3 separate regions of the Homo sapiens genome follow, and regions 1 and 2 are each linked to region 3. The links come from fine-mapping of genetic effects on gene expression. A gene starts in region 3. Each other region holds a variant in brackets. All regions are shown on one strand. Distances are from middle to middle. Region 1 overlaps IFT140 (intraflagellar transport 140). Region 2 overlaps IFT140 (intraflagellar transport 140). Region 3 holds the start of TELO2 (telomere maintenance 2).

Evidence for each region. PIP is the estimated chance that this variant, and not a neighbour inherited with it, causes the effect. A credible set is the group of variants that fine-mapping cannot tell apart.
Region 1: its variant is the best candidate, but not a certain one, in a credible set for the expression of TELO2 in nasal epithelium (TOPMed, PIP 0.75).
Region 2: its variant is the best candidate, but not a certain one, in a credible set for the expression of TELO2 in skin (TwinsUK, PIP 0.82).

Annotation. Positions count from the first base shown.
Region 1 is chr16:1,511,386-1,515,539 of GRCh38, reverse strand. The region is part of intron 30 of IFT140 (intraflagellar transport 140); the gene reads left to right. Among named protein-coding and RNA genes, the nearest start is that of TELO2, 20 kb to the right of the region's middle. The variant A/G (reference allele first, on the strand shown) is at 1,836.
Region 2 is chr16:1,517,068-1,521,221 of GRCh38, reverse strand. It overlaps IFT140 (intraflagellar transport 140), which reads left to right. Exons shown (of 31, transcript NM_014714.4): 27 at 414-620; 28 at 879-1,091; 29 at 1,175-1,341; 30 at 2,865-3,006. Among named protein-coding and RNA genes, the nearest start is that of TMEM204, 15 kb to the left of the region's middle. The variant A/G (reference allele first, on the strand shown) is at 1,818.
Region 3 is chr16:1,490,832-1,494,983 of GRCh38, reverse strand. It overlaps TELO2 (telomere maintenance 2), which reads right to left and starts at 1,624. Exons shown (of 21, transcript NM_016111.4): 1 at 1,379-1,624; 2 at 368-738. The coding sequence starts at 702. RefSeq lists enhancers at 1-17, 919-1,819, 1,917-1,966 and silencers at 1,187-1,386, 1,397-1,446, 1,617-1,706.

The DNA.
Region 1 (4,154 bases), 21 kb before region 3:
GGCTGCTTGGGAGGCTGAGGTGGGAGGACTGCTTGAGCCCAGGAGGTTGAGTCTGCAGTGAGCTGTGATAGCACCACTGCACTCCAGCCTGGGTGACAAAGCAAGATCCTGATTCAAAAAAAATCCTGATTTGACAGATTTTTTTCCTTTCAGCACTTGAATGTTTTCCCTGTCTGGGCCTCCATTGTTTCTGGAAGAGTCAGCTATGGGCTGTCTGTGGGGCCCTTACATGTCATGTGTCTCTCCATCTCCCACTGCACTGGCTGCTGTCATGACTTTCTTCTTGAATTTGTGTTTCAGCAGTGCGATAATGATGTTCCTAGGTGTTTTCATTGTATTTATCCTGGGCTTTTGGGATCTATATTTGTGTTTTGCCAAATTTGGGAAATTTGCTCTTTTTCTCCTTCTGGGACTCCAATTAAATGTTAGGTCTTCCATATCTAGTAGACACACATTTGTGATTACTGCTCATTATTTTCTTTTTTTCTGTCCTTTGGATTAATTTGTATTTATCTAGACTTTCTTTAGCTATCTTCAATCTGCTGTTAACCTCTCCAGCAATCTTTTTAGAGCTTGTATTTTGCAGCCCTAGAATTTACACTTAGTTCTTTTTATTATTTATTGGCTAAAATTCCCTATTTGTTAATTTGTTTAAAATATATTTTATATTTATATCCTAAAGCAGAGTTGTAACTGCTGCTGTAAAATCTTAGCTACCGGTTCCAATATCTGGGTCATGTAGGATTGATCTCCATTACTTGCCTTTTGAGTATGGGTCAAATTTTCCTGTTTCTTATGTCTAGTCATTTTTTTGTATCATGGACATTGTGGATAATCCATTGTAGAGACTCTGGATTCTGTTACATTCCTCCAAAGAGTATTGCTTTTTTTTGGTTCATTTTATTAGGCAATCACCTTTGCTCAGCTCAGAGCCGAAACTCTTTCCCCTGTGGTGGATAGCAGCTGAAATCCCTGCTTGTAGCGTGAGTTGGCTTAAAGTCTGCACCTCCCCTGCCTCATGTGTAGTGTGGGAGCAACTAGTGACGAGGGCAGCATATGCTCAGGATTTGGGATCCCCTCTATGCCTGCTGCATCCCAACGTTTCCACCTTCACATTCCAGCTGCTGTGGTCAACAAAAATCTTTTATTTATTTATTTATTTATTTATTTGAGATGGAGTGTCGCTCTATCGCCCAGGCTGGAGTGCAGTGGCGTGATCTCGGCTCACTGCAAGCTCCGCCTCCCTGGTTCATGCCATTCTCCTGCTGCAGCCTCCCGAGTAGCTGGGACTACAGGCGCCCGCCACCACGCCCAGTTAATTTTTTTTGCATTTTTAGTAGAGACGGGGTTTCACCGTGTTAGCCAGGATGGTCTCGATCTCCTGACCTCGTGATCCACCCACCTTGGCCTCCCAAAGTGCTGGGATTACAGGCGTGAGGTACCGCACCTGGCCAACAAAAATCTTGATTCTGATTCTTTAAGCCTGGAAGAGGGCAGGCTTCGAGGTGGCTGATGCCCACACTGGCCCTGACTTGGGCCTACCCTGAGGCAGAAAGTTGTGAGAAGCAGCCGGGTGCAGTGGCTCACGCCTGTAATCCCAGCACTTTGGGAGGCCAAGGCGGGCAGATCATGAGGTCAGGAGATGGAGACCATCTTGGCTAACACGGTGAAACCCCGTCTCTACTAAAAATACAAAAAATTAGCCGGGTGTGGTGGTGGGCGCCTGTAGTCCCAGCTACTTGGGAGGCTGAGGCAGGAGAATGGTGTGAACCCGGGAGGCGGAGCTTGCAGTGAGCAGAGATCGCACCACTGCACTCCAGCCTGGGCGACACAGC[A/G]AGACTCCGTCTCAAAAAAGAAAAAAAAAAAAAGAAAGTTGTGAGAAGCAGGAAGCCTGCCCAGTGCCACCCACTCCCAGCATCAGCCTGCTCACGGCTGCCCCCAGTGCCTTTCCATGTGTCCGTCGTCATTAGGGGGAGGGCTGCTCTCACAGGAGTCGTGCTGCTGTTGTCAGAAGCCTCTCTTCTCATTCTTTTTTCTTTTCTGAGACAGTCTTGCTCTGTTGCCCAGCTGGAGTGCAGTGGCATGATCGTGGCTCACTGCAACCTCCGCCTCCTGGGCTCAAGCAATTGTCCTGCCTCAGCCTCCCAAGTAGCTGGGACTACAGGTTCCCGCCACCACGCCCAGCTAATTTTTGTATTTATTTATTTATTTTTTAGTAGAGACGGGGTTTCACCGTGTTAGCCAGGATGGTCTTGATCTCCTGACCTCGTGATCCGCCCACCTCGGCCTCCCAAAGTGCTGGGATTACAGGCGTGAGCCACCGCGCCCGGCCTCTTTTTCAACCATAATTCTGTTGTAGCCAACATAGAGAATTGCACGCGCCTGCATCCGTCAGACCCTGCAGCTATGCCGATGCCTGCAGGGCCTCTGCACCCACCAGTTGTGTTGCCCTATTAGATAGTTCCCGGGACTCACAAACTGAGTATCGAGAAATGAGCTTGGGAAACATGCTGGCGACCGTGTCGGGCTCGCTGGGCTGCAGCCTCCAGAATTCACAGGAAAGCTCCTTGGCAGTGGCTCTCCCTCAGGGCTGAAAGGTCAGCTCCGTGAGACACAGACTTCCTGGCCCGGTTGCTCACTCCCCTCTGCGCCGTTCCACTTCCATTCACTGACCCCTTTTGCTGCTGGAAAAAACAACTCAAGTCTAATCCTAACAAGGTTTCTTTTTTGTTGTTGCTTGGTTTGGTTTTGAGACGAGGTCTTGCTCTGTCGCCCAGGCTGGAGTGCGGTGGCACAATCACAGCTCCCTGCAGCCTCAGCCTCCCGGGTTCAAGGGATCCTCGTGAGTGGCTGGTGTGCAGCACCGCGCCCTGCTCCAACGGGGTTTCTATTTCTAGGAGAACTATAGTTTTCCGTATAAAAGCAAAATTGGAGTAGAGAGATGCCCAGACTGCTATATCCTCAAAATTAACAGGAAATCCACATTTTAAATATTTCGCCAACTTCTTTATTCTCTCTATGGTTGCTTGAAGCCTGTGGAATTTAGTAACTCGAGATACAAAAGAAAAAAGAAACTGGGAAGCGCAGCTAAACTGAGAATGCCCAGGCACACGCTCCCTGGCTGCTGCTGTAGCGCCACCCGGGGTCACGTGCACCACCTCACCCAGGCCACAGCTCCTATATCCGCTCAGCTTTCCCGCCATCATCCATCATCTGAGCACAGCCCGCACACACCCTCCTGATGCTGGAGACCGGCAACATTTCTGTCCCCACGTCCTGCCCTCCACCGCCCCTCACCCACCTACGCCGCCTGTCCTGCCCCCCATCCTGCCCCCCACCCACCTATGCCGCCTGTCCTGCCCCCCATCCTGCCCCCCACCACCCCTCACCCACCTATGCCGCCTGTCCTGCCCCCCACCACCCCTCACCCGCCCTCCGCACCTTCTGCCTGCCTTCTGGAAACCACTTGATTGCCCTCTCCGAAGCTAGCTCTGCACACAGAGCAGTCACACGCACCAGGCCCTGGTTGCATCAGGACGCCGGCCCTTTCTGACCACAGGGTCCCTCTTCGACCCTGGTCAGCTCCTTCCTCTCTCTCCCTCCCTGTGCCAGCCCTTCTCTGAATTCTGCCACTGCAGGACCTCGGCCTGACCTGGCTCCCCACTACAGCATTACCCAAGCTTGTTCTGTGCCCTTACGTCCTGTGTCCCCTGTGTCCCCAGCACAGCGCCTGGCACATGGCAGGTGGTTTGTCAGCATGTAAGGCAGCATCTTTTCAGGTGTGGATGTTTGCCCTCAGCCTCTCGTTTGAGACTGTGTGGAAGGCTTGCACTCCACCAGCGCCCACCCCAGCTGAGGCCTTCCTTAAACGCAGGTCCACTGCCAGGTGATGGGAGGGGCCATCCAACAAGCTTATTATATCTTCATAGCTGAGACTCCATCTCAAAAAAAAAAAATACCCAAGCCAAACCAGTAGATATCGCTGCCTGCCCTCCACTCTGACATATGCATGTCCACCCGCAAGACTCGAGTGCAGAACGCGGGGCCTCTGCCTCCCCAGGAGGCTCTGCCCGCACACGCACGGTGAGCAGGCCTGTGCACAGCTGCTGAGGGACTTTCCAGGGCCCTGGCTCTGCATTTCCAGCTGAAATGCT
Region 2 (4,154 bases), 26 kb before region 3:
AGATCACCTGACCCTGGGGAGGTGGAGGCTGCCGTGACTGCACCACTGCACTCCAGCCTGGGGGACAGAGTGAGACCCTGTCTCAAAAATTTAACTTTAAAAATTCAGAATTATAGAAGAAAATTACCAATTTCCTTTTCTCCCAAACGTAATATTCTCTTGAGCATATATCACTTGAGACTATTGTTTCCTTCGTTCCATTCTGGAATGTTAACAGCGTGAGAAAGTAACGTGAATGATTGTAGGTTGGTGAGGCAGGGGAGACATCCTTGTCCCCTCCATACCCACCCCAGCTAGACAGAAGCCGCCGCTGAGCCGAGGGGCCTGGTTTCCTCTGAAGCGGTGGCAGATGAGGGGCGCACTTCAGTTCCCGGCCCCCTCGGCAGCCCCGTCCCATTTCTGCACCTTTGCAGTATCAGGAAGCCCTGCAGCTGTGCCTGGGGCAGAACATGAGCATCACCGAGGAGATGGCGGAAAAGATGACCGTGGCCAAGGACTCCTCGGACCTGCCTGAGGAGTCGCGGCGGGAGCTGCTGGAGCAGATAGCAGACTGCTGCATGCGCCAGGGCAGCTACCACCTGGCCACCAAGAAGTACACGCAGGCCGGCAACAAGCTGAAGGTGAGCCTCTCCCGGCCCCAGCCCGCGGCTACCTCACAGGCAGTTAGGCTGCGGGCCCCCTGCACGCATCTCCATTTGCCTTCGTGATGACCCCAAGCTAGGGCTGAGCCTTTCTGGCCAGGAAGAGCACAACCACTAAGATCTCTCTCTACCGGGCAGCCCTGAGCCACTCTTCTTGTGAGAGCTCCTGCTCGGGGTCCCTTGTGCTTGTCCCGGCCCAGCCCCTGCTTGCCTGAGCCCCGCTGTCTCTCTGCCTAGGCCATGAGGGCGCTGCTCAAATCCGGAGACACGGAGAAAATCACGTTCTTCGCGAGCGTGTCCAGGCAGAAGGAAATCTACATCATGGCTGCTAACTACCTGCAGTCCCTGGACTGGCGGAAGGAGCCGGAGATCATGAAGAACATCATCGGCTTCTACACCAAGGGGCGGGCCCTGGACCTCCTGGCTGGCTTTTATGACGCTTGTGCCCAGGTGCAGGCCCTCCCTGGCATGCCAGCGGGGCCCCGGGGAGGGCTGTGGAGCCCGGCAGGTCTTGACGGGTTTCATCTGTACAGGTGGAGATTGATGAATACCAGAACTACGACAAAGCCCACGGGGCGCTGACCGAGGCCTACAAGTGCCTGGCCAAGGCCAAGGCCAAGAGCCCCCTGGACCAGGAGACCAGGCTGGCGCAGCTGCAGAGCAGGATGGCACTGGTGAAGAGGTTCATCCAGGCCCGCAGGTGTGCCCCCGGGGCCAGCGGGGACAGGCCAGGGCAGATGTGACTACAGGGCCGGGGCTGACCACGAGAAACCCCAGCCAGCAAAAGGGCAGGACAGCAGATGGGAGCTCACTTGGGACAGCACTACTGCTGAAGACACACCCCACCTCCTCCTGGGAGCCCTCAGAGCCCGGGCACAGCCTTGGGAAGGTGTTCTGGAAACACCAGAGACGCTGAGAGAGAAACCTGGTGGGGGAGTGGGAGGAGGAGGCAGATGTGGAGCAGGAGAGGGTGTGTCTGGGGAGCCACAGACCTGCTGAGGGTGTGCAGGGGCCGGGCAGGGGAGTCCTGAGTGAGTGCCGCTGTGTGACCTGGGGTTGGGGGACCATGGTGACCAGAGGGCTCATGCCTCTCCACAGGTCAACTGCCACCAGCTCCAAGCTTGTGGAGAGGAGACCCAGGCAGCCAGCCGATGGTCTCGGTTTTCAGGAGAGGCC[A/G]AGATGCTAAGTTTATTTGAACACCTCCCCATCTTTATTATGGGCAGGTGACTCAGCTTTTCAGAGAGCTGCTGTGTGGCCACCACGGTGGGCACTCGCCTGTGCGCTTCAGGGCCCAGCTTCTGTCTCAGCTGGCAGGGCTGTTTTCCTTATCGGAGAACCTTTTCCAAAACAAGAGTTCCAGAAGTCCTTTGAACAAGGTCGTACAAAGCGGTGCCCCTTGGAAGGGCACGGTCCACCTGCACGTGTCGATTCTGGGGTATCAGCGTCTCACAGATGTCTGCTGAGCTGAGGCCACAGGGCAGGAGCGGAGGAGAATCGATAGCAGCTGGTCATCAGGGATAGCACAGGACGTGGGTGGAGGGGAGACGACGTGTGAGGGCCAGGGTGGGCAACCTTCTATGGGCCAGGGGTCAGAGGGCAGGCCAGGCGCCTGTCTGGAATGGCCGAGTCAGTGGGTGGCCAGATGGGCCCTGGACCCTCCTGACATGGGAGCCTGAGCTCCACACGGCTCCAGTCACCTGCCCTGGACCATGTTGTGTTCCAGCAGGCTCACCTCCCTGGTGTCACCCCAGCTCACAGGCCACACACCCTGCTCTGCCACAGACCCTCACGCCAGGTCACACACGCAGCCTGTGTGCGGGCAGCCTCTCTGCTTGGAGGGTTCTTCCCAGCGGCCTTGGGCAAGGGGTGCCGTGCGCCTCTCCGTGTACCCTGTCCACATGCACCACATCCCCTCTGGGTCACGCTTTGTGCAGAGGTTTCTAGCCCCCTCTGGACTGTTCCATAGAGCAGGAACTAGGGGTCGGAAGTCTTTGGTCTTCAGTCCAAGCATAGGACCCAGCATTCAAGTGATCAGTAAGAATGTTACATGGATGAGTTAATTTATGAATGAACAAATTAAGGAATTAATGAATTTAACTTCATAGAAAGTTTCCTCCTGCCATTCCGGAGAGCTCCTCTTACAGGCCAAGAGTCTCCTCTGACCTCTGATAGCAGTAGGTGTTCAGGGCTTCGGGGCCCAGGCCTCATCTCTGCTCTCGGCAGGACGTACACAGAGGACCCCAAGGAGTCCATCAAGCAGTGTGAGCTGCTCCTGGAGGAACCAGACCTGGACAGCACCATCCGCATCGGGGACGTCTATGGCTTCCTGGTGGAGCACTACGTGCGGAAGGAGGAATACCAGACGGTGAGGCCTGAGTGCTGCTCACTAGCAGCATCCCGCCACACAAGGCTCCTGAAACGAAGGCTTAACGGCTCAAACTGAGGCTGTGTGTGGCGGCTCACTCCTGTAATCCCAGCACTTTGGGAGGCTGAGGCAGGAGAATGACTTGAGCCCAGGAGTTCAAGAGCAGCCTGGGCGACATGGTGAAACCCCATCTCTACAAAAAGGGGAAAAATTAGCCAGGCATGGTGGCTCACACCTGGGGTCCCAGCTGCTTGGGAGGCTGAGGTGGGAGGATCCCTTGAGCCCAGGAGGTTGAGGCTGCAGTGAGATCTGATGGCGCCACTGCACTCCAGCCTGGGTGACAGAGCGAGACCCTGTCTCAAAAGAAAAAAAAAATCTGTCGGTAGCAAAAAGTAACAGTCTCACGCTGTTACTGGCTGTTACTAGCAGTGTCGCAGGAAAGCGACAGACTTACTTTATTTGTGAAGAAATGTCTGCATGTACCCGAGTCTGAATAACCACGATTTCTTTTTCAGGGATTTTCACAAAAAAAGAAAATGGTGTTCCATTTTTTAGTCGCTTATTTTTTAATTTTAGAGACAGCGTGTAGTCACTTTAAAGTGACCAGCTAATCACTTATTCAGCCGCAGTGTTCTAGCGTTTTCCTCATCCCCACCAACATTTGATCATTCTTTCGAACTGTAGCCATCCTAGGGGGTGAACAGTACCTTGCTGAGGTTTAAATTCACATTTTCTGGATGAGTAGTGATGTGCAGCTCCTTCTCATGTGCTTATTATCCATTTACACACCTTCTGTGAAGGCTTCAAGTCTCTTCTCATCATTTTATTGGGTTTTCTTATTATTGTACTTTTTTTTTTTTTTTTTGGAGACGGAGTCTCACTCTGTTGCCCAGGCTGGAGCGCAGTGGCGCGATCTCGGCTCACTGCAAGCTCCGCCTCCTGGGTTCACGCCATTCTCCTGCCTCAGCCTCCCAAGTAGCTGGGACTACAGGTGTGCATCAGCATGCCTGTAGAGATGGGGTTTCACCATTTGGCCAGGCTGGTCTTGAACTCGTGACCTCAAGTGATCCACCCGCCTCCACCTCCCAAAGTGCTGGGATTACAGGCGTGAGCCACCGCGCCTGGCCGAAGTTCCCTTCTATTCCTTT
Region 3 (4,152 bases):
GAGCCGGCTGGGGCTGGGAGTCCACATGGGACACGTGTCAGTGATGACAGCTGTGCTTCCCTGGAAAACCTGGAACGTCCCCAGCTGACGGGCTGCCTCTGCCGCCTGGGATGTGAACACTCCCACCCCATCCCTCTCTGACACAGCCGGACGGGGAGCAAGTGGGGGACTTTGTGAGACACAGCAGGTGCCTCCCGTCGCAAAGGAGACAGACACAGACCGCTTCTTCTGTTCAGGGGTTCAGCCAGGAGCAGGCTCTCTCTCTAGCCCCTCACAGGGACTAGAGAGGCTCTTGGTCCAGTCCTTCAAGCCACTCTCATCACTTCTGAGGCTACCGGCAACCCCAGGATGGGCCCAGCCCACTCACCCCGCAGCACCCTCGATGGTCTCCATCAACACCAGGAAGGCTTGGTCCGCCGGGCCCTCCAGGAAGAAGCTGGCCCACAGCTCCTCCAGGCGGCCATGGGGCAGCAGCTCCAGCCAGGCTGGGCTCAGCCTGCTGGCAAGACATCTGAGGACAGGCGAGAAGTGGGCCGAGGCAAACTCCTCCTTCTCCCTCGGGAGCGCTGGAGGCTCCATCTCACCGAGATACCGCTTCAGGGACTCCAGGGTGCAGAAGATGTGGCCGCCATCCTCCGAAGACGAGAGGGCATGAATGGCTTCCCGGACGGCGAGTCGAACCTCTGAGGGTGCTGGCTCCATCCTGCAGGACAGATCTGGGCGTCACGGGAAGACGACCTGTGACATGGACACAGGGCTCAGCTTGGGGCACGGAAATAATCCACACAAGCTCAGGAAGCCCCTCGGTGAGCGCCCCGAGACCCCACACCCCTCAACCCTGGTCCCACCCAACCCTGTCCCGCCTCCTTCCCCTCCAGTGCCTGCCGGTTTCCACCCAGAGTTCGCTCCTCCGCTCGGACCCCAACGCTACCAGCCACTGCAGGGCTTCTCAACCCGGGCCACTGTGCCCAGGGAACATTCTCAGTTGTCTCAACCGGGAGTGCCACTGGCGCGAGAGGGAGGTGGAGGCTAGAGATGCTGGTGAGTGTTCCCCGGGCACAGCGCGGCCCCACGCGTCCTCGCACCCAAGGCGGGAAACTCGGCCCGCGGGAGCTGCCGGCCCTCCCGGCTCCCTGAGCGGTGAGAGGTGGCTCCAGTCGCCATTCCTCCGCCCCTTAGAAACCAACAGCTTACGGGGAACACGGGTTCGGGGCTAGAGGAGCCGCACGCGGACCCGCCCCCGATCCAGGCCCGGACCCCGACCTGTACCCGGACCCCGACCGGACTCCTACCCGACCTGGACCCGACCCAACCAGACCTGGAGCCCAACCCGACCCAACCGGACCCCCGATCCCCGATCCCCGACCCCCAACCCGACCTGGACCCGGCTCCCGGGTGACTGCAGCGCGCTCAGGCGCCGCGCGCCACCGATTCGCTGCAGCCGATTCCCCACGGCCGCCGCGGCCCCGGACGAAACGCGATCGCGGCCCAGCCGGTTGGCCCCGAGCACGAGTTCCTGGGTCCGGGCGAGGCTCCCGCGGGTTTTCTTGAGCCTCTGGGGCGGGTCTCCGCGGGCCTCTCAGCGCGAATCTGCGGAGGACGCCAGGCGGGAGGGCGCATCTGCGCCTGCGCTGCGCGGGGACGGGGCGGAGCCTGGACGCGGGAGCGGGGGGCGGTGGGGTGGGCGGGGCCTGACGCGTGAGTGGGGCGGGGCCTGAGGGCAGGGCCGCGCTTCCCCACGTGGCTGCGAGCTGGGTTCGCTGCGCCCGGGTGGTGGGTTCTCGCCTTAGTTTCTCCCATCTCGGTCGTCCCTACCCTGGAGTGATGTCAGCCGTCTCTTCCCTCCGCCTCGGGTCCCACATTCTCTCCAGAACGCCGAGCGTTCGCTCTAAGGCAGATGTTTACCAAGACAGGCCTGGCTCGTCTTCCCCGGATGTAAGGCTCTGCTTTCAAGGGTCAGAGGCCAGTAAGGGAAACGCACGGTACACAAGGAAGTAAAAGAGCAGTTGAGATCATGTCAGATCTGAACAATTGCAGCTCCGTAAATGAGGCCGGGTCGTGGAATAAAAACTGCGACCAGTAGGGTAAGCGCTAGACGCATGTGGCTCTGTAAATTAACTGAAGTTAAATAAGTCCAGTTCCCTTGCAGCACTAGCCCCATCTCAAGGGCTCGGTACTACCTTTGGCTGTGGCCGCCAGGCTGGACAGCCGGACACTGAACATTTACAACATGCAGTGCCTTCTGTACACCGCAGCGGAGTGTGGGGGGCTTCATCTTTGTGGAGGGGGCAATCCAGGAAGACACCTAAAGAGGCGCCATTTCAGCAGTGATGGATGTGGGAAAAGCTGGGGAACAGTTATCCATTCAACAAACATTGATTAAATGCCTGCTTGGTGCACCAAGCCTTCTGAGCAACAAATGATGCAAAGTTCCTGCTCACCTATCGGGGGAACAGATAAAGTACATACGAAATATGCCAGGTGACAGGCCTCGAGCAGAAAAACTGGCAGAGGCCGGGCCCGGTGGCTCACGCCGGTAATTCCAGCACTGGGAAGCTGAGGTGGGAGAATCGTTTGCACCCAGAAGTTCAAGAATGGGAAAAATAGTGAGACCCTGTCTCTACAAAAAATTTAAAAATTAGCCAGGCACGGTGTCATGAGCCTGTGATCCCAGCTACTCAGGAGGCTGAGGTGGGAGGATGGCTTGAGCCCGGGAGGTTGAGGCTGCAGTGAGCCATGTTCACTGCCACTGCACTCCAGCCTGGACAACAGAGCAAGACCCTGTTTCAAAAAAAAAAAAGGAATCAAAATAAAAAACCGGTAGGGTAAGAAAATAAGAGCCAGTGGCCGGGCACAGTGGTTCACACCTCTAATCCCAGCACTTAGGGAGGCCGAGACGGGTGGGTCACAAGCTCAGGAGTTCGAGACCAGCCTGGCCAACATGGTGAAACCCCGTCTCTCCTAAAAAAAGAATAATAATAATAATAATAGTAATACAAAAATTAGTTGGGCGTGGTGGCATGTGTCTGTGATCCCAGCTACTTGGGAGGCTGAGGCAGGAGAATTGCTTGAACCCAGGAGGCAGAGGTTGCAATGAGTGGAGATTGTGCCATTGAACTCCAGCCTGGGTGACAGAGCGAGACTCCTCCAAAAAAAAAAAAAAAGAAAAGAGCCAGAGAGCAGTGGGTGCTGTCTTACGTAAGGTGAGAGCTCTGAACAGAACACCTTAGAGCAGAGCCCTGAATGTGTTGACAGCCAGGGAAGAGTCTCACTGGCAGGAAAACGGCAGGTGCAAAGGCCTGAGGCCGCAACTGTTGCCCGGGAGGTGGAGCCGAGGGAGGCATATGCAGGGGTGAGGCCTGGAGGGAGTGAGGCAGTGGGCCAGGCCACAGAAGGCCCTCGCAGGGACTAAGATTTTGCTTGTGTGGCAGGCATCTCCTGGAGCCATTGAAGGCACGGGTCCATGCTGGTGCAGTTAGGAGAGCAGACGGTAGGGGGGCGACACGGACGAGGGGACTAGGTGGCCATTGTGAGGATGAGCTTGGGGCGGAATGGGGGTGTAGAGAAGCAGCTGAACTCAGGGCATGTCTCTGCAGGCAGAGCTGATGGATGGGATATGGGGCAGGCAGCATCCCATCATCCCGGAAACTCCTCCTCCGTCCGCTGCTGGGTTCCAGCCCTCGCCAGTGCCCACGGCAGCTCCGTCCTTCCCTATTCCCTTCTTTTCCTGAAGCCCCGCATCCAACAGTGGGTGCTTGGAGGACAAATTTCTCAAGCCTTTGTGTGTCTGAAAATGTCTTTATTCTTTGCTCTGTCACCCAGGCTGGAGTGTAGTGGCGCGATTTCAGCTCACTGCAACCTCCTTCTCCCCGGCTCAGGCGATCCTCCCGCCTTAGCCTTCCAAGTAGCTGGGACTGCAGGTGCACACCACCACGTCTGGCTGATTTTTGTAATTTTAGTAGAGACGGGGTTTTGCCATGTTGCCCAGCCTGGTCTCGATCTCCTGGACTCAAGTGATCTGCCCACCTTGACCTCACAAAGTGCTGGGATTACAGGAGAGAGCCACCACACCCTGCCCCGACCCACAACTTTAAATGGAAATCAGGCAGGCTCAGTGGCTCACGCCAGTAAACCCAGCACTTTGGCTAGGCT